3 separate regions of the Homo sapiens genome follow, and regions 1 and 2 are each linked to region 3. Evidence: fine-mapped expression QTL. A gene starts in region 3. Each other region holds a variant in brackets. All regions are shown on one strand. Distances are from middle to middle. Region 1 overlaps AHCY (adenosylhomocysteinase). Region 2 overlaps TRPC4AP (transient receptor potential cation channel subfamily C member 4 associated protein). Region 3 holds the start of TRPC4AP (transient receptor potential cation channel subfamily C member 4 associated protein).

What was found. PIP is the estimated chance that this variant, and not a neighbour inherited with it, causes the effect.
Region 1: its variant is fine-mapped to the expression of TRPC4AP in whole blood (TOPMed, PIP above 0.99).
Region 2: its variant is fine-mapped to the expression of TRPC4AP in whole blood (INTERVAL, PIP above 0.99).

Annotation. Positions count from the first base shown.
Region 1 is chr20:34,273,722-34,281,900 of GRCh38, forward strand. AHCY (adenosylhomocysteinase) reads right to left here. Exons shown (of 10, transcript NM_000687.4): 10 at 6,547-7,444. The coding sequence ends at 7,313. Among named protein-coding and RNA genes, the nearest start is that of AHCY, 26 kb to the right of the region's middle. The variant G/A (reference allele first, on the strand shown) is at 3,951.
Region 2 is chr20:35,052,984-35,061,162 of GRCh38, forward strand. TRPC4AP (transient receptor potential cation channel subfamily C member 4 associated protein) reads right to left here. Exons shown (of 19, transcript NM_015638.3): 4 at 4,531-4,588; 5 at 1,993-2,048. Among named protein-coding and RNA genes, the nearest start is that of TRPC4AP, 36 kb to the right of the region's middle. RefSeq lists an enhancer at 2,905-3,014. The variant C/CAAAAAAAAAA (reference allele first, on the strand shown) is at 4,002.
Region 3 is chr20:35,089,456-35,097,634 of GRCh38, forward strand. It overlaps TRPC4AP (transient receptor potential cation channel subfamily C member 4 associated protein), which reads right to left and starts at 3,352. Exons shown (of 19, transcript NM_015638.3): 1 at 3,159-3,352. The coding sequence starts at 3,326. RefSeq lists an enhancer at 1,038-1,597 and silencers at 3,124-3,253, 6,887-7,016.

The DNA.
Region 1 (8,179 bases), 820 kb before region 3:
GATGAGTCTAGAGTAGACGAGTTACCCTTTCTTCTTCCATGTACCAGGAGTAGAAGGTGTGTATGTTGGGAGCGGGTATTGGGTTCAGGAAGGAGGAAAAGGAATGACTTTTGTTTAATTGGTAAAATCCTTTAAAACTGTCAAATGCTTTCATGTTCATTACAGAAAGGAGGTTTCTATTAATTGATTGCCTGCAGAGAAATAGAAGCTCTCCCAGCTGGATATACGAGTTGTAGAGTCTGGGAGGTGGCACCTTCTAATGGTGAGAATGATGATATTGACAATTATTATGCCTTCTTTTTGCCTGGGGAGCCCAGCAAATAGCTTCATTGGAGTCCAGAGGCTTTCACACTTTCCAGAGCTCCTCTTTAGAATTCGTGGACTCTATGGCTGTATAGACTACCAGAGCAATAGTAAATATTGGGCTGCTGCTCACTGCTCGAGGCCTGTGTGGTCTGCAGTTATCATAGTGCCATACTAACAGTGATTATTTATTGAGCAGCTACTTCATGCCAGGCATGACACCAAGACTATCAAATTAACGTCTTGACCTAAGTATCACTGTAAATAAGAGAACTGGGGCTCAAAGATGTTAAGCAATGTGTCTAGATAGACCTCACACCTCAGCATGGGGATTCAGATCCAGCCCATGTCATTCCAGAGCCTAGGCCCTTAAACACCAGGCCACTGAAAACCAGGCAGAGGGGACTCTGCCTGCGTAGAGCCAACACCTTGCAAGAGACTCGGCCCAAGAGGTGTACCCAACAGACTCCCCATGTGACTCCCCAGCTCTCTAATGAGACCTTGTCAACACCACCCCAGGGAGTAGTCTCACTAGTGGAGCTTCTGGAGAGAAGCAGCTGCATCTTCTTTTCTTGGGTCAGTACTTACTCAAGAGGCCATGAGAGGTACAGGATAGGGCACTGATAAAGAATCAAGAGGGGCTGGGGTATGGTGGCTCACTCCTGTAATTCCAGCACTTTGGGAGGCCGAGGCAGGAGGATTGCTTGAGCCCAGGAGTTTGAGACCAGCCTGGGCAACATGGCGAGCCCCCATCTCTACAAAAAAAAATTTTAAATTAAATTAGCCAGGTGTGGTGGCACGCGCCTGTAGTCTGAGCTATTTGGGAGGCTGAGGCAGGAGGATCGCTTGAGCTCGGGAGTTCAAGGCTGCAGTGAGCCATGAATGTGACTATACTCCAGCCTGGATGACAAAATGAGACTTTGTCTCTTTAAAAGAGTCAGGTGGTACAAATTCCTGTTCCAGCACTGCCCCTCACTGCTGTATGACCTTGGGCAAAATTCCCTCCCAGCTGCACCATGAAGGGATTGGACAAGGCAGTCTTGGGGGCGAATCCAGTCCCCTTCATGGTGCAGCTGGGAGGGGACCTGGCCCAAGTTCTCTATTTTCTTTTTTTTTTTTTTTTTTTGAGATGGAGTCTCGCTCTGTCACCCAGGCTGGAGTGCAGTGGCTTGATCTCCGCTCACTGCAACCTCCGCCTCACGGGTTCAAGCGATTCTCCTACCTCACCCTCCCAAGTAGCTGGGATTACAGGTGTGCTCCACCATGCCAGGCTAATTTTGTATTTTTAGTAGAGACGGGGTTTCACCACGTTGGCCAGGCTGGTCTCGAACTCCTGACCTCAGGTGATCTGCCTGCCTCGGCCTCCCAAAGTGCTGGGATTACAGGCATGAGTCACCACACCCGGCCCTCTGTTTTCTTTTCTCTGTTGTTTTTCTATAACCTGGTGTCTTCAATGTCTTCTCCACTACAGCGAGACTCAGAATTGTCAGACAGCAACCTATTGAGATGGGTTTAGGGAAAGAAGGTAACTTTCTGGGGGGTTCATTTCACTAAAAAGGGGCTAGATCCAGTTAGTGTAAAACATGTCTAGATTCAGCTACTCAAATATTCTCTGGAATGTGTCACTCTCTCTCAATTGTGTTGGCTTTATATCTTTCTTTTTTTTTTTTTTGAGATGAGCCCTTGCTCTGTCCCCCAGACTGGAGTGCAGTGTGTGATCTCAACTCACTCTAACTGCCACCTCCCAGTTCAAGTGATTTTCCTGTCTCAGCCTCCTGAGTAGCTGGGATTACAGGCGTGCATCACCATGCCCGGCTAATTTTTTTTTTTATTCTATTTTTTTTTTAGTAGAGCTAGGGTTTCATTATGTTGGCCAGGCTGGTCTCAAACTCCTGACCTCAGGTGATCTGCCCACCTTGGCCTCCCAAAGTGCTGGGATTACAGGTGTGAGCTGCTGCACCCGGTCTGTGTTGGCTTCATCCTAAGGCAAGCTGGCCTTCGTGGGGGCAAAGGAGCAGCTACAGGCTCACATTCCTTCCAATCCTGGCAGCCCCACTGAAGACAGTACCTTTTCTGTTTTTAGGATAGCTGGGTCTCTTTTACAGTTGCCACCTCCACCTACTGTGCAACAGGCACAGAGGCAAATTCTACACTTGGTGTGCACCAGCAGCATTGGGAAACACTGGGGACGTTGTTAAAATGCACACTATAAGGCCTCACCCCAGACCTACAGAATCAGGACTGGGGATAAGCCCTCCAGGTGTTTCTGAGGTTTGCTCAAGTCTAAGAACCACACTGGGTTATGGAACAGGCTTTAGGGGAATAAATACAAGCCAGCAGTTAGTAGGAAAAGCAGGTGCAGGTCCCCACGAGAGACAGGTTGAGGAGGGGCATTCAGTACACAGTGTGGGTGGATACTCTAGGGAGGCACCCACCTCTCTATTTCTCTCCCTGGTAATAGGGCAAGTATGACAACACTGAGCAGGGTTGATCAGACTATTACGATGCTAAGCAGTGTGAATTTAGGTTCCAATAACTTATGGAAGTTGTCAGGAAAAGCCCACCACCCAGCACCCGGGGGTCTTTAGAACCCTTGCAAGGTTGTAACTCCTCCCACCAGGGAGAAGCAGCCTCTAGTCCTGGGGGAGTCTGAGTCCAAGCAGCCCACAGAGTGAATCCTGGAGTCGCTCCTGCACCACACCAGATTTCTAGCAAAAGTCCTAAAGTCCCGGGATTGAGTCCAGACCAACTTGAGCCACATGCCTGTCTTGGAGCCAGTTTGGAGAAGCAACCAACCTGGAACTGATCGAAGCCCGCCCGGACCACTGCACACCCCTGGCTGCCTCTACCACCTCAAGCAGGTTTCCTAGCTCGGTCCCCTGGGCTAGTCCTGAGTAGGTCTCAGGGATGAGAATCCGGATTCCTGGGGTTTCCTGGAACCTCAGACTCCCAAAGCAGGGCTGTCCCAACAGCAGCTTCCTGGAGTCCTCACTGGCATCAACAGTCCCCGTGATCCGGCTTCCTGGAGTCCTCACTGGCATCAACAGTCCCTGTGGATCCTTCCTGGGTTTTAGTCCATGCTACTTCCAGACCCTCTAAGCTCATTATTTCTGGACTGAAAAGGGATCCCAGCACCTCTAGCCTAGGAGGCCCCTCCCACCACAGCCAGTCACACAGAGGTGGGCATGGGGCTTGGTGTGCAGAAAGAGCCCTGACATGGACTCGGGTGGGACACCCAGACCTGCAGAGTGACCCGGATAAGTCACAACTTCTCTGGGCCTCCGTTTCTCCACATACAAATGCTGGGTTCTGCTCCACAGGACTCTAAGGTTCTCCCTTAGTTCCAAGATCCTATGACTTCTCTAATTTTCTAATTTCCTAAGTATCCTAAATTCCCTGCTCTCAAAACAGCTCCCTCCCACCACCTGGTGTCTCATACAGCCCTTAAAACTCAGCATAAAGGCCGGGCACAGTGGCTCATGCCTGTAATCCCAGCACTTTGGGAGGCCAAAGCAGGCAGATCACGAGGTCAGGAGATCGAAACCACGGTGAAACCCCATCTCTACTAAAAATATAAAAAATTAGCCGGACACGGTGGCGGGCGCCTGTAGTCCCAGCTACTCGGGAGGCTGAGGCAGGAGAATGGC[G/A]TGAACCTGGGAGGCGGAGCTTGCAGTGAGCCGAGATCGCGCCACTGCACTCCAGCCTGGGCGACAGAGCAAGACTCCATCTCAAAAAAAAAAAAAAAAAAAAAAAAACTCAGCATAAAAACTCCTCACTAATGTTCTATCATTCGAGCGTCAAGACAGCCATCTGAAGTAGGTATTTCTGTCCCTGCGGGGAACACAGTGAGTCAGCAGCAGACCCAGGGCTCCTCTTTCCAAAGTTCAGTCCACTGCTCCATAAACAGCCACTTTCCACCAACCACAGGCCTCATCTTCCCATCTCTTTCCTGGAAAAAATCCAACCAGGGCTAGGCCTGGATACTGCAGGACCCTTGGCCAATTCCTTCTTTCTCCATGAAGCTTTGATGGGGGCAGCCCAGATATCAGGAGTGGAGTATTGGGGTATTGGGGGTGGAGCAGGAGACACATCATCTTTCATTGTGGGTACCCGGTCAGTGTCACACATGTGACAGATTAGCAGACCTGAAATCAGAGGTAAGTCTGAGACCAGATGTGAAAAGAGGGGCTGTGTTTTCTGAAACAAAAGGTTCTGGGAACTGACAGGACACCTCCGAACAGGAAAGGAAGAGGCTGGCATAACAGAAACCAGAACTCCTGGAAGAAGGGAGGTGGGGGGCTACATGGGATCTGGCAGGAGGAAGCATTCTGACAGCATTTCCCACATCCAGGAGGAGACACGCTAGAGGGAAGGGAGCATGCGCACACACAGGCAGCGGCTGTGCAGCAGAAGGCGTTCAACCTCTCTGGCTTAGAAGAACAGCAGCCTCTCCTTTTTTCTACTGTGAAGTTATCGTCCCAGCAGCCACCCCAGTAGAAGAACTGAGGCAGGGCTCTGGGTAGCCCTCTGGTTTACAGTTCCAGAGTTCCTGATCTAATGTTGGGAAATCTGAATCCAGGCTCCCTTCCTAAACCTGACCTTGCTGGTGTGGAAGGGGCTTGGATTTTGGTCTAAGTCCTACCACATACAAAAGTCAGCTCATGCTTATGGCTCCTCTCAGAGCCTCAGACAGGGGAATTCAAGTCTCTATGAGGAATAAATAAGACCATACCTTTTTACATATGATGTAAAGATACATCATATCTTTAGAACTTAATGTGAGTCCCCACTTAGTGCACTAAGGCCAGGCATGGTGGCTCATGCCTGTAATCCCAGCACTTTGGGAAGCTGAGGTGGGCAGATCACCTGAGGTTAGGAGTTCAAGACCAGCCTGGCCAACATGGTGAAACCCTGTCTCTACTACAAATACAAAAATTAGCCAGGTGTGGTGATGAGCATCTGTAATCCCAGCTACTTGGGAGGCTGAGGCAGGAGAATTGCTTGAACTCAGGAGGCAGAGGTTGCAGTGAGCTGAGATTGTGCCACTGCACTCTAGCCTGGGCGACGAGAGTGAGACTCCGTCTCAAAAAAAAAAAAAAAAAAAAAAAGGCCAGGCACGGTGGCTCACGCTTCTAATCCCAGCACTTTGGGTGGCCGAGGCGGGTGGATCACGAGGTCAGGAGATCGAGACCATCCTGGCTAACATGGTGAAACCCCATCTCTACTAAAAAAAAATACAAAAAAAAATTTGCCGGGCGTGGTGGCGGGTGCCTGTAGTCCCAGCTACTCGGGAGGCTGAGGCAGAAGAATGGCATGAACCTGGGAGGTGGAGCTTGCAGTGAGCTGAGATAGCACCACTGCACTCTGCTGCCTGGGCAACAGAGCGAGACTGTCTAGAAAAAAAAAAAAAACAACAACTCTAAAAGATGCTTGCACCATGCCTGTCACCCAAGTGTGCAAGATCTCAGCCTGTTTTGACCACTTGTGTTGTGGTCAGTTGGGAGTGGGTGCCCTGTCATTTGGTACTAATAATAGTTGAAGTACCAAAGTCTGTACACTATTTACAGCAGAGTCACATCACATACACACGTAACTTATGCAACTTAAACTATGTGCACTCAGGGAAAAAGAAAAGGTAAGAATTAATTGTCAGGCAGGACACACTGATGAGCATCTAAGCCAGAGTGAGCAGTTTTCAGCCCCTCATGCCTCACTGATCATGGGCCATTGAGTGTGACTTAAGGGTTTTACTTGACATTGTATCTTTAGAACTTAATGTGAGTCCCCACTTAGTGCACTTTTAAAAATACTGCAAACAGCCGGGCACAGTGGCTCACGCCTATAATCCCAGGCAGATCACTTGAGGTCAGGAGTTCAAGATCAGCCTGGCTAACATGGTAAAACCCCGTCTCTACTAAAAATACCAAAAAAAAATTAGCTGGGTGTGATCTCAACTACTCAGGAGGCTGAGGCAGGAGGATCGCTTGAACCCAGGAGGCGAAGGTTGCATTGAGCTGAGATTGCATCACTGCACTCCAGCCTGGGTGACGGAGCGAGACTCTGTCTCAAAAAAAAACGAAAGAGTTCCCTCTTCACTTTACCCATTCTTTCAAGCCTAAGGACCACAGACAGCCGTTCCACTGCAGAGTACCCCGTGAATGCTTCATCAGCACGACTATAACCCCCTATTCATGGCATACATTGTTGGCAGAGGATTATCTATAAAATAAAGGCTCAAAATTCTTCCAGGCACCAAGATTTTTATTTACCCACCTTCCTGCTTTCTTTTAACATTATAGGCCAAATTATTCTCTTTTTGACCCAGGGTTGTGAAAGGAACCATCTGGTTATAAAGTGGTGGCAGATTTCACGAAATCTGCCTGCATTCATGTTTTTCTGGCCCCTCTCAACCCCTAGCTGTCACTTCTCTGTTCTTTCTCAGTTGCCCCTTAACAGTCTATTCTAACCCCTGTAAAACAGGGACTAAAAGTACTAACCTCATTGTAATGAGGTTTAAGAGAAGGCCCAGCACTAAGCCAGGCTCTCAGGAAAATTCAAACAACAGTTCCTCTTTGCCCTTCAATATAGCCCCTTCTCATCTGTCATGGGCTGAAGAACCACTGGACCTGTAAACCAAGCACACAGGTATAAGTCCACAGACCAGGTGAAGGCCTAGATGGCAAAACACATGGGCTTTGTGACTCCACTACTGACTTCCAGGCTAAGGAAGGACTGACTTAGTGAGCTGTTCCAAGACCACTGAGCTCATGGTTCCCTGTGGCTGGGACCTCCATCATGACCGGGGCTTGAAGAGGGTACTCTGTTCCCGCTGCCACATTTGGAACAGTATGACGGCTGCAGCAGAGGCCAAAAACTAAGTGATCAGCCCCAGAGAGTCGATGGGGGACACTGACAAACCAATCACAAAGTTGGTGCCATTAGCTCTTAGGGAGGAGAGGTGGGGCCTGGGCAAGGACAGCAGCTGGAGGGTGAAACGCAGACCTGGCTCTCAGTAGCGGTAGTGATCCGGCTTGAAGGGGCCATCACAGGACATGCCCAGGTACTGGGCTTGCTTCTCAGTTAGCTTGGTCAACTTCACATTCAGCTTGCCCAGGTGGGCTTCAGCCACTGCCTCATCCAGCTGGGGAGAAACAAAGGAAGACCGGGAATCAGTGCCATTTTCTGGGACCCCTACACGCGTCTGGCTGCCAATAGAGGCAGAAGTGTTCTGTTAGGGTTTCTGCCATGTGTGGTACTCATGTTAACTCTTTCTATCCTCACACCCAGCCTCAGTTAATGTGTTGTTTTGGCTGCCCAGCCCCCCTCAAAAGGGAACCATGCCACACCCTCCCCTACATGTGGCTTGACAGGACCATCAATCACATCTCCTTCCTCATTCTTCAACTCAAGCAGCTAACCAAAATGCTTCTCTGGAATTGATCTATGCACAGGACATATTTTCCATGACAGGCAGAGACAAGGTGCTCCAACCCCACTGGGATTCCTAAACAGGGAAGGGTATCTATCAATCTCAGCTCACCAGTTCCAAGTCTATTTTACAAGTGAAATGAAGATAGATCCGAGAGACAGAAGGACAGAGCCATGATGACACGGAATCCTAGGTTTCCAGTGTTTGGATCCGAGAATAAAGTTCTTTTTTTTGTGACAGAGTCTCATTCGGACGCCCACGCTGGAGTGCAGTGGCACGATCTCGGCTCACTGCAACTTCTACATCCCAGGTTCAAGTGATTCTCCTGCCTCAGCCTCCCGAGGAGCTGGGATTACAGGCGTGCACCACCACGTCCAGCTAACTTTCTGTTTTTAGTAGAGATGGGGTTTCACCATGTTGGTAAGGCTGTTCTTGAACTCCTGACCT
Region 2 (8,179 bases), 36 kb before region 3:
CAGCCAGATAGCACATAATTGAACCATATCGCCCTATGTTCCTCAAATTTTTTAAAAAATTTTATTTAAAAATACTTTTAGTTGATATATAATAAAGGTACATAATTTCAGGGAGCATATAATTTAATACATTCGTATAATTTATAAAAATCAAATCAATGTACTTGGGATAGCCATCAGCTTAAATACTTGTCTTTTCTTTATGCTAAGAACCATTCAAATTCTCTTCTAGCTATTTTGAAATGTAAAACAGAACAGAATATTATAAACTAAGTCACCCTTACTGATTTATCTAACACTAGGTCTTATTTATCATCCCATATATTTGTACCCATTAATCAACTTCTCTTCATACATTTCATTTTTTTAACTTAACTGTTTTATTGGAATGTCACTGATTAACATTAGGTATCATGATTTTAAAACGGCCTCATAAAACTAGTGACTATATGGAGTTGCCAAAGATGGAGTCATTATATTATACACTGTCTTCTTCTATAAGGACAATTTCTTATTGGCCTTAGTTGCAAGAACTGTGCATTTCCTGAACAATTTGAAATTTTATCTTATAGATCTCCCTGTGCCTATCTCTGTCATTGGCTATACATGGCTACCGAGCACTTAAAAGGTGGCCAGGCCAAACTAAGATGTGCTCTGGGTGTTCAAACAAGAGGAAAGAAAAACAAAACACACACACACATTGGATTTTGAGAGCTCAATACGAAAAACAAGTAAATATCTCATTAATAATTAATTATACTGATTACATGTTAGAATGACAATATTCTTGATACACTGTGTTAAACAGAATTTATCATTAAAATTAACTTCACCACTTCTTCCTACTTTTTTCTTTAAAAAAATGTGGCTACAAGGAAATTTAAAATAACCCAAGTGGCTTGCATTATATTTCAATTGCACAGCACTATTATAGATGCTGAATTACGTAAGTGTTCAAACATATTCCCCTATTTGTGTTGGCTGCTAAGAAGCTTGAAGCCAAATTTGTGCCCATCCGTAATACAGATGATTTTATGGTCTTCATTTTTATATCAGCCCAATTCCTGGCTATACGTTATGTCCCCACCTTTATCTTCTTCTTTCTTACCTGCTTCTAAGTTCGTGATCTTGGTAGATTTTGCATACACCCACAAGATGTCAGAAATCTTATTTTGAATGAGGCAAGAAATGAAATGGAGCTAAATGTTTTTTTTTTTTTATTTCCACAGCATACAGGGTTCACATTTATAATAGCGCTCGTCTCATTCTGCCATGTATTATGATTCACAGTTTACACAGTTTATCATAAGTTTCTAAAAGACAGGTACTGTATCTTTTAAAAACTAACATTTATATATTGTTTTACAAAGTGTTTTCACATCTACTATCTCATTTCTCACAATAAATCTATGATGTTAATACAACTGCTAACTGCATTCTATTGGTAAGAAACTACGGCTTGGGAGGTGTACTAAGCCAAGGGCCAGAACACAAAATCAGGTCCTAACACTAAGTGCCATCCTCTTTTGTTTCTACCAGATTGCTTTCTTTATTCACCATTCTTCCTGGCTCAGTGGTCAACCTAGTAGAGTCCTGCTCAATATATGGGCGGGGCTTCTGGTTCTCATTTTGTTTTCTAACAAGGAAAATGAAGAAATAGGCATAATGGAGTTAAAATGAGTCTTAAAGGTCACAGTCTGCCAACACTTGTCACCTTTTGACAAGTGTCCAGTTTCTACTTGGACAGCTCTAAGGCCAAAGGAGTTTACTACCTGCTGCAGCAGTCCTGGCTCTTAACAACTGCTACAAAATTCTGCCTCCCCGTAATTTCTACCAGTTAGTCCTGATTTTCAGGCACACATAAAATAAGCCCGATTCCCCCACTGTCTGAAAGCAGCTCTTATGTCTGCCATTCTACTCGAATATTCCCATCTTAAACATTGCAGACCTGGTAGGGGAGATAAACAGAGCCCCAGTGGCAGGGGTACTTACACAGACACAGGTATTATACAGGATACTCAAGCAGTCCTTGGACATTTCATCACTTACTGAAAGTGAAAGGGTAATGACTGGTTATTTTTCTCAATGAAAAGATAGTACAACAGTTACCACATTTTTTTCAGCATAAGAACTGTTATAATCCCCTCCAAGATGATTATTTTTCCTTTAATATACTTCTTCCAGCCCCTGTCTACCAAAGGTTTTCATAGTGCCCATCAGAACCTACAAGCCCATTTGCATATTGCTTTTGGTTTGATACAGCAGCTGTTTTCTTATTATGCTCCACAGTCTTCATAATTTCAACCTGTTGTTGTGCCATCATTTAATAAAGCCATTTTCCCTTAATGTCTTGCTTAGGATATATCTAGGATTTGTTTTTTTTGTTTTTTGTGTTTTTTGGCTATTTAAGTAGACCACAAATGAACAACTTAATATATATGTGTATCCTTTTCATGTTTGTATTAAACTAGTTCCTCAAGATACATTTTCAAAAGTAGAACTACTAGAATCTAAAGTATAGGCATCTTTTTTTTGTTCATTTGTTTTGGTTTTTTAAATGAGGTCTTACTCTGTCACTCAGGGGCACAATCACAGCTCACTGTAGTCTCGAACTCCTAGGCTCAAGCAATTTTCCCTCCTCACCCTCCCGAGTGGCTAGGACTGCATGCGCGTGTACCACGCCTGGCTAAAAGTTAAAAGTATAAGCATCTCAATTGCTCTTGTTATAAATTTCCATTGAAAGTTCTACTGCAGCAAACAAAAATACCATTTTTATCAGACTCATTAACTGAGCATTTCTTTTTTTGTTGCTGTTATCTGTGTTGGGCAAATGGCTCTTAATGTCTGATCTATTACTAATTCTTATAAAGAAACTACTACTTCCCTGTGAGCAGGAACAGGAAAGTAGCATAAAAACGAAACTTAATTTTCATGAGCCCAAAACCAAAAGATGATGAAACTGAGTATGAACCATGGACAAAGTGCTTTATTTGGCACTTGCTTCTATTTTTTAAAATTGTTTCCATTCACTCCTAAGCTGCTAGGAATGCTAAAATGCTAGGTCTCCTTCTCAGATCCCAATGGGCAGCCCTGCCAAGCTAGCTTGACTAGATGGGTTGTCTCATAATCCTGAGACAACGCAGACGCTCTGCATCCCTTATCACCACCTTTCAACCTACTGGGGCTCTGTGATTGATTTATTTAACGACTTCAGAGCAGGGTGAAACACTGCTCTGCATGTCTCACTATATATCTCACTATTTCTAGATCCTCCATTTTTAAAAGGAATTGGGATTCACTCATTCATCAAGTATTGTTCAGCATCTACTCTAGAGCAGATACAGTGGTGAGGGAAAAAAAGTCTCAGCCTTCATGGAACCTATAAATCTAGTGGGAAGAAGAGAGACTAAACAAGTGCACCAACAAATAATTACAATATGCTACTTGCTATGAGGGTACATAGAGAACATGAAAGACCAAGTTAGAATACACAGCTGAGACATTAAAAATGAATATAAATCCTCTTAATAACCACTACTGCATGCACAAATGAGGCCTTATACAGTATGTCGTATTGGGGTAAAAAAAAAATCTTTTAAATTAAAAAAACGCAAAGTTGGTAGGAGGGCATTCACCAAACATTAACTGAAGTCATCTCTGGCTTTTAACACCAGAGTAAAGTGCATTCACTTTTTTATTTTAAATTAAATACCGAAGCTGGGTGCGGTGGCTCATGCCTGTAATCCCAGCACTTGGGAGGCTGAGGTGGGCAGATCACTTGAGGTCAGGAGTTCGAGACCAGCCTGGTCAACATGGTGAAACCCCATCTCTACTAAAAAAAAAAATACAAAAATTAGCCGGGTATGGTGGTGGGCGCCTGTAATCCCAGCTACTTGAGAGGGTGAGGCAGGAAAATCACTTGAGCTCAGGAGGCGGAGGTTGCAGTGAGCCAAGATCATGCCACTGCACTCCAGCCTGGGCAACAGAGCGAGAGACTGTCT[C/CAAAAAAAAAA]AAAAAAAAAAAAATTGAATACCTAAAAAGAATTATTTGTAACGTGTAAGTTATAAAAAATAATAATAGAATATTACCCATATATCTACCACCCAGCTTAAGAAATAGTGCATACCAAAACACTCTGACTTTTTACCATTCACACCCTGGTAATGCCTGAACTTTTTACAAAGAGCATGTATCACCTTTCTAAAAAAAATAGTTTAAAAAAAATAAAACAGAGTGATCTTACTCTCTCAGCTAGTTATATGTGAGAAAGAAGAATTTCCCAAGGAAACATAGAAGCTGGATCACAGGACTATCAAAAGTACAAAGATGCATTCTCTTAACCCAGATCTGAATTTCTACGCAGTACAGAATGAATAAAGACAGCTGCTTAGCTGGGGGAGGAGAGAGCAACCTGTAGCTAAATGTAAGACATGTCCTTACTATTAAGAGTTAGGAAGGGAAGGAAGAAGGCAGCTGCTGGGAACTGCCACCGTATCGGCAGGTTGGAAAACAAGGACCAGTAGCTAATAGGTATACTTACTTTTCAGTTTCTGTCCCCGGATAGAGATCGTAGGCCTCATAAGAATTTCTACAAGAAGCTATAAAAAAAATTAGATAAAATCTTCAAAATTAATTCAAAGTATAACTTATAAAATGATTTTGCCATAACCATTCATGGCCCATGTATCTGTCACAGTATTACAAGACCCTTTTGTTCCAGGAGGCAGTTAAGGTTCAGTAAGGCTCCTGACTGCAGCAAGTCAGGAGACCCAGGTTCTAGTCCCAGCTTGGCCACCTACTTGCCCTTCTCTGGCCTCAGCTTTCTCATTTTTGAAAAGAAGTATTTTAGATTAGGTAATCTCTGGGATCTAATGCGGCTTTAATTTCTGAAAAGCTGCAGAACATTATTACTATGATTCTTCTGTTTAAAGAACATTTGTAAGTTTATTTTAAAAGGACTCAAAAGATACACCATAAATTGTTAACACTGATTTCTACAGGTTTGGGGGTTATATGCATGTGTTTTTTATTTTACATACTTTAATACAATTTTGCACAAACTGTTTAAAATAAGCATGTATTTAAAAATTCATTCTACGGAGAGAAAGGATAGTTGATAAAAGGGTCAATCCATTAGAAAGATATAACAACTACAAATATGTATGTACCTAACAATAGAGCCCAAAAATACATGAAACAAAAGCTGGCAGAAATGAAGGAAACAGATAATTTAAAAATAAAAGTTGGACACGTTAATAACTCTGCTTTCAATAATAGACAACTAGGCAGACGAGCAAAGAAATAGAAGACTTGAACACAACGAACACATATATTCTAACAGACATCTACAGAACACTCCATGCAGCAAGAACAGAGTATACATTCTACTCAAGTGCACATGAAACATTCTCCAGGACAGATCAAATTTCAGGCCACTGAACAAGCCTCAATAAATTTAAAAGCACTTAAATCACATACAGTATGTTGTGTGGCCACAATGGAATGAAATTAAAATCAGAACGAAATTTGGGAAATTCATGAATTATATGGATAATTTTAAAAACCCATCCTAAATAATAATGGGCCAAAGAAGAAACCACAAGGGGAAGTATAAAGTATCCAAGAAGGATGAAAATACCAAAACTTATGATGTAGCTAATGGAGTGCTCAGAGGGAAATTTATAGCTGTAAATGCCTATATTAAAAGAAAATTCTTTTTTTTTTTTTTTTTTTTGAGACAGAGTCTTGCTTTGTCTCCCAGGCTGGAGTGCAATAGCCCTATCTCGGCTCACTGCAACCTCCGCCTCCTGGGTTCAAGCGATTCTCCTGCCTCAGCCTCAGAGTAGCAGGGATTACAGGTGCCTGCCACCACTCCTGGCTACTTTGTGTATTTTTAGTAGAAACGAGGTTTTGCCATGTTGGCCAGGCTGGTCTTGAACTCCTGACCTCAGGTGATCTGCCCACCTTGACCTCCCAAAGTGCTGGGATTACAGGCATGAGCCACCGCACCCGGCCAAAGAAAATTGTTTCTAATCGATAACCTAATCTTCTACCTTAAGACACTGGAAAAAGAGCAGACTAAACCCAAAGCAAGCAAAAGGGAGAATAAGAGTTGAAACAAATGAAACAGAGAATAGAAAATAACAGAAAATGAACAAAACCAAAAGCTGGCTCTTTGAAGACTGGCAAATTCTTAACTAGACTGACCAAGAAAAAAGGAGAGAGGATACAGATTACTATACTCAGAAATAAAGGAGAGGGCATTACCACCAACCTTATGGCAACAAAAGTGATTATAAGGAACTACTATGAACAACTGTATGCCAACAAATTAGATGACCTAGACGAAATGGACACATTCCTAGAAAGACATAAAACTAAAAACTGACTTAAGAAGAAACAGAGGCTGAGCATGGTTGTTCATGCCTGTAATCCCAAGACTCTGGGCGGCTGAGGTGGGAGGACTGATTGAAGCCAGAAGATTGAGACCACCCTGGCCAACACAGCAAGACCCCATGTCTCTACAAATAAAATAAATTAGCTGGGCGTGGTGGTACGCCTATAGTTCCAGCTACTTGGGAGACTGAGGCAGGAGGATTACTTGAGCCCAGAAGGTTGAGGCTGCAGTGAGCTATGATCATGCCAATACACTCCAGCCTGGATGGCAGGGTGAGACTCCATCTCTTTAAAAGAAAAAAAAGAAGAAGAAGAAGGAAGAAGAAGAAAGAAGAAGAAATAAGAAGAAGAAGAAGAGGAAGAAGACTACGACGAAGAAGAAGAAGACGAAGAAGACGACGAAGACAAAGAAGATGAAGAAGAAGGCGAAGACGAAGACAAAGATGAAGACGAAGAAGATGAAGACAAAGAAGACGAAGATGAAGATGAAGAAAAGATGAAGAAAAGACGAAGACAAAGATGAAGATGAAGAAGACGAAGACGAAGAAGACAAAGACGAAGAAGACGAAGAAGAAGAAAAAACAGAACATCTGAACAGCCCTATAACAAGTAGAGACTGACTTAGTGATTTAAAAAAAAACAAACAAAAACAACAATAACAAAAAACTACCCATAAAGAAAAACCTTGGACATGATGGCTCCATTGGTGAACAATACAAGACATTTAAAGAATGATCAATTCTTCACAAACTCTTCCAAAAAACAGAAGAGAAGGAAACATTTCCCAACTCATTCTTTGAGGCGAGTATTACCCTGATACCAAAACCAAACAAAGACATCACAAGAAAACTACAGATGAGTATCTCATGCATATATACACAAAAATCCTGAAAACCCTAGCAAACAAAATCCAGACACATACAAAAAGGATTATACTCCACGCATGATGGCTTATGCCTGTAATCCCAGCACTTTGAGACGTCAAGGCAGGAGGACTACTTAAGCCCAAGAGTATGCAACCAGCCTGGGCAACATAGTGAGACCCTGTCTCTACAAAAATTAAAACCAAAAATTAGCCAAGCATGGTAGCATGCTCCTGTAGTCCCAGCTACTCAGGAGGCCGAGATAGGAGGCTCGCTTGAGCCCAGGAGAGGCTGCAGTGAGCTGTGATCACACCACTGCATTCCAGCCTGGGTGACAGAGAGACCTTGTCTCCAAAAAAAAAAAAAAAAAAAAAAAAACAAGAAAAGGATTATACACCATGACACTATGACAAAGTGGAATTTATCCCAGGAATGTAAGGTTGGTTCAACATATGAAAATCAATATAATACACCATATCAATAGAATAAAGGACAAAAGCCAAAAGCCACACGGTCATCTCAACAGATGCAGAAAAAGCGTTTGGAAAAAAAAACCCAAAACACTTTCATGATAAAACAATCAACAAGGAATAGAAGAGAACTTCTTCAGCCTGATAAAGGGCTTTTATTAAAAAACCCACAGCTAGCATCACGCTTAACAGTGAAGACTAAATGCTTTCCCATTAAGATGAGGAAAAAGACAAAGATGTCCACTCTCGCCACTTCAATTTAACATTGTACTGAGTGTTCTAAGGCAACTAGAGAAAAATAAAAAAAGAAATTAAAGGCACCCAAATTGGAAAGGAATAAGTAAAACTAACTATTTACAGATGTCACAATCTAGAATACAGAAAATTCCTAAAGAATCCACTCAAAAAAACTATTAGAGCCAATAAGCAAGAGTTCAGCAAGATTTCACGATATGTGATC
Region 3 (8,179 bases):
AAACTGGCTCAGGTGATCATCCCATCTTGGTCTCCCAAAGTGCTGGGATTACACACATGAGCCAATGTACCTGGCCTATATTATATATTTGTTTACTACAATGAAAAAATTTTGGCTAGGCGCAGTGGCTCACACCTGTAATCCCAGCACTTTGGGAGGACAAGGCAGGGGGATCATGACGTCAGGAGTTGGAGACCAGCCTGACCGACATGGTGAAACCCCATCTCTACTAAAAATACAAAAAGTAGCCAGGTGTGGTGGCACACGACTGTAATCCCAGCTACTCAGGAGGCTGAGGCAGAATTGCTTGAATCCGGGAGACGGAGGATGCAGTGAACCGAGATTGCGCCACTGCACTCCAGTCTGGGCAACAGAGCGAGACTCCGTCTAAAAAATAAAAAATAAAAAATGTTTAAATCTGGTCTTTTCCTACTATACCACATGCCATAACAGTATAAAAATATGGGTAATCTGGGCAACAGAGCAAAACCCTGTCTCTACCAAAGATACAAAAATTAATGGGGTGTGGTGGCACACGCCTGTAGTCCCAGCTACTAGGGAGGCTAAGGTGGGAGGATCACTTGAGCCCAGGAAGTTGAGCTTGCCACTGCACTCCAGCCTGGGTGACAGAGCAAGATTCTGTCTCAAAAAAAAAAAAGGGTAAGCAAATAACTTATTCTGCAGGATGGGAGAGAGGAGCGGAAGGGCACAGCATGGAATAAATTAAAAAAAAAAAAAACTAAGAAAAGAAATATTTGAAAGATGAAGGTCCCCATTTTATCCTCACTATAGCTCCAGGCAGGGGGTCTCTACTTCAACTTCTGAAATAGCTCCCACACCTATATACAACCATCAGTTACCACAATAACCTGCCTTGCTTTTGTGGCTCCAGAATATTCCAGCAGCCTTGTATCTGGTGAGCTTTTTTTTTTTTTTTTTGAGATGAAGTCTCACTATGTCACCCAGGCTGGAGTGCAGTGGCGTGATCTCAGCTCACAACCTCCACCTCCCAGGTTCAAGCAATTCTCCTGCCTCAGCCTCCAGAGTAGCTGGGATTACAGGTGCTTACCACCACGCCCGGCTAATTTTTGTATTTTTAGTAGAGACGGGGCTTCGCCATGTTGGCCAGGCTGGTCTCAAACTCCTGACCTCAGATGATCCACCCGCCTCGACCTCCCAAAGCACTGGGATTACAGGAATGAGCCACTGTGCCCAGCCTCTGGTGGGCTTTTCTAGGCTCCTCCCATTCTAAGTCATTCAGCACTGGAAACAAATTAAGTTGCCTAAATTGCCTCATTTATCATGCTAAAGAACTTCTGTGGCTCCCTATTATTCTCAGAACACTGATTATCAGGATGGGTGTTTAGGAACATATCATCTAACCTCTCTGAGCCTCAGTTTCCTCATCCATATTAAGAAATGAGTCTTGAAGCATAACTCAAAAGCTTGAGGATTAAAGATAACATATGCCTTGTACCGTACTTTTTCTAAAGGTTATGTGCTCACTAAAAGTTAGTCCTCTTTCTGCCTGTCTCTACACACCCAGCTCGGTAAGGTATCTTAGCTTAAGAAGGAAAGAGCAAGTATTTCTAGGATTTTTTTTTTTTTTTGAGACAGGGTCTCACTCTGTCAATCTCCGCCTCCCAGGCTCAGGTAATCCTCCCACCTCAGCCTCCCCACAGGCACACACCACCACCATGCCCGGCTAAATTTTTGGAGACACAGGATTTTGCCGTGTTGCCTGGGCTGGTCTCGAATTCCTGGATTCAAGCGATCTGCCTGCCTCGGCCTCCCAAAGTGCTGGGATTACAGGGTCTTAAGTCAGGTCTTAAGAACACAAGGGGGAAAAAGGCTGCTCATCTATGGTTGTGTGATGGCCAGGAAAACATTTCTCACTCACAACTGCTCCTTTCGTCCACAGTCCTCCATACACACAGACCCCCTAGCCTTTATTTTATTCTATCCTTTTCGTCATTTGAGGAAGTGATATTCAAATTAAATTTAAATAAAGTTACACTGTGAAAAGTCTCACTCCCATTTTCTCCCCCTTTAGCCCAATTCCCACCTCACTCCCACCAACCACTTTATCAGTTTCTTGAGTATCCTTCAAACTTTTTATGAAAAAGCTGTCTTTAAATAAAGCTAATGTTTTACAGGTGTTAGCAAGGTTCGGGGTGGGGGAGGGTGGAAGAAGTAGTGGACTAGGTCCTATTCAACCTGGTTTACCCTAAAGCAGTGTCCTTCGCTCACTCAAAAATAACAATAATCATATGTTGGGCACCTGTTATAAGTCAGATGCTTAATATTAACTACCTTCAGCCCTTAGTATGCACCAGAAATGCACTAATGCTTTACACAATTGCCCCCTTTGATCTCCACAACAATCTTAAAAGGTAGGTTACTAATTCTCATCTTCATCTTACAAGTGAGGAAACTGAGGCACAGAAAGGTCACCTGCCCAAGCAAGAGAGAGGAGCAGGGCTTTGAACCCAGGCCTGACTCCAGAGTCCCTCTTAACCGTGACGCTCTACACTAGCAAACCAGATATAGTCTCTGCACCCGCTGGAACTCAGCCTAATGTGGGAGACGGGCGAGAAAAAGGCAGACAACAAAGAAATACGAAATTATAGACTAAGAAAGTAATGTAAACGAAACGAATTCGCGGCTGTGACAGAATAACAATGGGGACCTACTTTAGAAAGGGGAAGGAAAGAGTGTCAAGGAAAGGCCTGAGAAAATGACATTTATGAAATGCTCGGGAACCATTTGGGGGCTGCAATGATGACCCCCTCCCCCACGCCCAATACACGGGATAAACTCGAGGCCCACAGAGGCTAAAACAAACACGACAGGGTCCCCCAGACGTGTAGACGTGGCGCAAAGAAGGGAGGATCCAGAAACTGGGCCCAGGGTTCGTACACGCCATCAGTGTCCACAGCAGCCCAGCCCCGCTCGGCCCCTGACAAGGGACATCAAGCCAGCTGCTTCCCACGGCCCCGCTGCAGCTGAGAGCGTCCGGGCAGCTCACAGGGAGGCCTTCCGGCCAGCCAAAAGGGCTTTGGCCCGTCCAGCGGCGGCCTGGAAAGGCCTCTTCCCCGGCCCCCCGCCAGCTCCCGCCTGGTCCGCCCCGCCCCGCCCCTCCTGGTCCAGCCTCGTACCTGCACCGCCCGGACCAGGCCCCGGCCGGTCAGCTGGCCCTGCCGCAGCTGCAGCAGAATGTTACCAGGCCGCGGCCGGCCGCCCCATCCGCCCCAAGCCGCCACTGTGGCTGCCGACCGTCTCCCTCGGCCGGCTCCAGACCCAGCCGCTACCGGCGCCGCCGCCATGTCTCCTCGTCGGACAAACAGGAAGCAAGCGGCCTCGGGGCCGCGGAGATTTCTACGGGGCGGCGGAGGGGTCGCCGCAGCGCCCCCAGTGGGCCGTCGGCGGAGGCGCAAGCCGCGTGGCAGGGACCGTGTGCGGCGTGGAGGCTACTGGGAATTGTAGTCCTGCGCGGCAGCGGGGTAGGTGGGAAAAGAGATGTGGCCTTTCCTGCACTGCCGGTTTCTCTGGCCCCCGGGCCCAGCATTTCGGCGAAATCTCCCAAGGTCCACATTCTCCCATTTCTCTCGCCGATTTGGGCAGGATGCAGGCAGCTGGCCAAGAAATGATCCTGGGCTTCAGGTCAGGAGTCAGGCCCTCGAGTCCGCTTCCTGCCTGCTTCTCTCTACACGTGACTCACCGCGGACATCGACCAAGTCATCGCGCTCTGCCACTGCGCCTGTGTCCTCGTCAGGTCACTCCATCTATAGATTCTGGGAGCCTGATCAATCGTAGTTCCTGGGGCTTTCTCTGCGCCCGACACCAAACCATGTCTAGGGGAAAGGGAGGGTGTCTGGGATACAGTGGTGAGCAGAACGGCCTGGGATCCTTTATCACGAAATGCAGGTTACAGGGGAAGACAGCAGATCCATACACAAAGAAACGCAGTCTCAAACTGGATAAGTTGTGTAACTGGGTAGGTTGTTGTGAAATTAAATAATGGAAGGGAAAGGGATTAGTAAATTGTGACATCATATTCTCTGTCAGATGAAAACCCTGTCCTAATTTCTATCCACCAGATAGCATGTTGTCTCTAATACTCATTTTTTCAGCTAACTTCTGTGGCAGGATGGCACTGACTCCCCCCACCCAACACACACACACTTTTTCCCTTCCTAGCAGGGGGCCTGTAATAAAAATGAAAGAGGAGAGCTAAGTGTGATGTAACAGGGAATGGTGAAGATTGTGACTCATAACTAAGATGACTGTAACTTACTGCTCAAACCAGAACACTTTAAAGAATGAAAAGACACAATAAATAATTACACCGGGACGGTAGGCATAAAAGTGACTCTCCCAGGTGAACTGGCACTATGGTTACCATCCTCACACCCCATCTAAAAGGAGTAGACTCACCATCCATCTTCATAGAACTAGAAAAAAGAATCCTAAAAATCATATGGAACCAAAAAAGAGCCTGCATGTCCAAAGCAAGACTAAGCAAAAAGAATAAATCTGGAGGCATCACATTACCTGACTTCAATCTATACAATAAGGCCATAGTCACCCAAACAGCATGGTACTGGTATAAAAATAGGCACATAGACCAATGGAACAGAATAGAGAACACAGTATAAAACCAAATACTTATAGCCAACTGATCTTCGATAAAGCAAACAAAAACATAAAGTGGGGAAAGGACACCCTATTCAACAGCTGGTGATAACTGGCAAGCCACATGCAGAAGAATGAAACTGGATCCTCATCTCTCACATTATACAAAAATAAACTCAGCCGGGTGCAGTGGCTCACACCTGTAATCCCAGTGGCTCACACCTGTAATCCCAGCACTTTGGGAGGCCGAGGTAGTCAGATCATGAGGTCAGGAGTTCGAGACCAGCCTGGCCAACATGGTGAAACCCCATCTCTACTAAAAATGCAAAAATTAGCTGGGCGTGGTGGCATGCACCTGTAGTCCCAGCTACTTGGGAGGCTGAGGCAGGAGAATCACTTGAACCCTGGAGACAGAGGTCACAGTGAGCCGAGATCACGCCACTGCACTCCAGTTTGATGACAGGATGAGACTCCATCTCAGAAAAAAAAAAAAAAATAGCCAAAGAAGTTACAGTCAGGAGATATTTTGTTCCCTATAGAAACTGAATATAACATCTTAAAATTTGTCCCTGAGTGTTGTTTCTTAGAAACTCGAACCCCCACCAAATGGATCTGCTGATAGGCAAACTCAGATAAGGGAGAGCTGAGAACTAAACTTTGACTTCTATTTTTTGTTATAAATTTCTTCCTAGGGGGCCTGGAGGAGGACACGACCATAAGTCAGAGCTAACATTCTTTTCTGCAGATCCCAAATTTTTAGACAAAGCTTTACCTCCTTAACCAATTACAAGTCAGAAAATCTTTGAATCCACTTGTGGGCCCCTGGTTGGAGATGTCCTGTCTTTTTAGGTGGAACCAATATACAGCCCCTATGTATTGATTTATGACTTCGCCTGTGGCCTCTGCCCTCCTGCCATTAAAAACCTGTAAGCCGGCTGGGCGCGGTGGCTCACACCTATAATCCCAGCACTTTGGGTGGCCGAGGCAGGTGGATCACCTGAGGTCAGGAGTTCGAGACCAGCCTGACCAAAACGGCAAAACCCCGTCTCTACTAAAGATACAAAAATTAGCCAGGCATGGTGGCACGTGCCTGTAATCCCAGCTACTCGGGAAGCTGAGGCAGGAGAATCGCTTGAACCCAGGAGGCAGAGGTTGCAGTGAGCTGAGATTGCACCACTGCACTCCAGCCTGGGCGACAGAGCAAGACTCTGTCTCAAAAAAATAAAATAAAACCCCTGTAAGCCATAAGGGAGTTCAGGTCTTAAGCATAAGCTGTTTGATTCTCCTCGCTTGGCACCCTGCAGCAAGTGCAATAATAAATGCCTCACTTTCTCTTGCTGTAATCCCAATGTCAGTGGCTTTGCTGCACCAGGTAAGCAGCCCTCACTTTGGTTCAATAACAATACTTTTCATAACTTTTTGCACCAGCTATGTATCATTTCTAGATTCAAGAAAAAAAAGTCTTCTAATATGTGAAATTAACTTTAAAAAGACATAAAAAGAAAAGGCATTTCCAGGGATACAAACAGGGCATTGGTGAGCTGTCCGGGCAGCAGCCAGCCTTACCAGGGAATCCACAGCCCAGGGATTCCACCCAGAGCTCTTCCTGAGGCATATGGTGATGGATATTCTCACCCTTGTCGCGGTGAGGAGACAGGATCCTGACTAATTTCACAGTTCACATGGCCCTCCAGGTTTCCCTTGGCACTCATCATGCTAGGGACAAATCTTCCCACCTCAGCTTTGACCCAACTGCAAATGTCACTTTCCATTCCTCAGTTCCTATCTTTGTCAGTCTAGCCTGGCCCAGGCATTCACCAAAGCTGGGTATTCACTGGGTCAAAAATGACAACCTCAAATTCAGTCCTTACAGATACCATGTGACCATGAAGTAAGGGGACATGTTTCCAGAAACCTCTGTGGAAAGACACTCTTTTCCACTTCACCTCTGCTCTGCCAGCCTTTTCCGTAGAAACTAGCTGAGGCTAGGCGCGGTGGCTCAGGCCTGTAATCCCAGCACTTTTGGAGGCCGAGGCGGGCAGATCACGAGGTCAGGAGTTCGAGACCAGCCTGGTCAATATGGTGAAACCCCGTCTCTACCAAAAACACAAAAATTAGCTGGGCGGGGTGAAGCGCGCCTGTAGTCCCAGCTGCCCTGGAGGCTGAGGCAGGAGAATTGCTTGAACCCGGGAGGCGGAGTTTGCAGTGAGCCGAGATCGCGCCACTGCACTCCAGCCTGGGCCACAGAGCAAGACTCTGTCTCAAAAAAAAAAAAAAAAAGCTGAGTGTCTCTCACCACCAGAGGGCGAAGTACCTCTCCCACCAGAGGTCTGTTGATGTCAATTTTAATCAGCACTAGAAAAAAAATGAAGCTCCCAAACTGGCTAATTTTTTTTCCACCGTAATCCCAAATGGCTTAACCAAACATGATGATGCTATTCAGAGAACATTAACTCTTGTAAATAAATCGCCAAACTCATCTCAATTGGGCAGACAGATTTTCTGGGACTTTTTTTTTTTTTTTTTTTTTTGAAGTCTTGCTCTGTGGCCCAGCCTGGAGTACAGTGGTGTGATTATAGCTCACTGCAGCCGCCAAGCTCCTGGGCTCAAGCAATCCTCCCGCTTCAGCCTCCCAAAGTGCTGGGATTACAGGCATGAGTCATGGCACCCTGCCAAGAAGTCACTTTAATCAAAGCAACTGGCACTGTTATATCAGGCCATGGTAACAGCTGTCCCATGCAACTATGCATTGTCCTGTGGTGTCATTTTTTACAGTGATTTTTTTTTACATTACATTTCTAATGTACAACCTCTCCATGATTTGTCTTTTAAATGTTTGTTAAGTACTATCTTATGTGCCAGGCACTGTTATAGGTGCTGTGGATATTGTGCTAAATAAAATAAACAAAATTTCCTGCCCTCATGGGGCTTATACTTCTGGGTAAGATCTACCCTTTATTGAGCACTTACCATTGGCCAAGCACTTTCTTTGCACTATCTTATTATTCTCGCAGCATTTTTGGGGAAGTTTTTCAAATCTACAGAAAGTTAAAAGATACACCATTAACACTCATATACCCTTTGCTTAGACTTGTCAGCTACTAAAACTATATTTTATCTTTCTCTCTGTGTATATATACACATATATGTACATATATGTGTATATATACATATACATATATACACATATGTACATATATGTGTATATATACATATACATATATACACACGTGTATATATACATATACATATATACACACGTGTGTATATACATATACATATATACACACGTGTGTATATACATATACATATGTACACACGTGTGTATATATACATATGTACACACGTGTGTATATATACATATGTACACACGTGTGTATATATACATATGTACACACGTGTGTATATATACATATGTACACACGTGTGTATATATACATATGTACACACGTGTGTATATATACATATGTACACACGTGTGTATATATACATATACACACGTGTGTATATATACATATACACACGTGTGTATATATACATATAC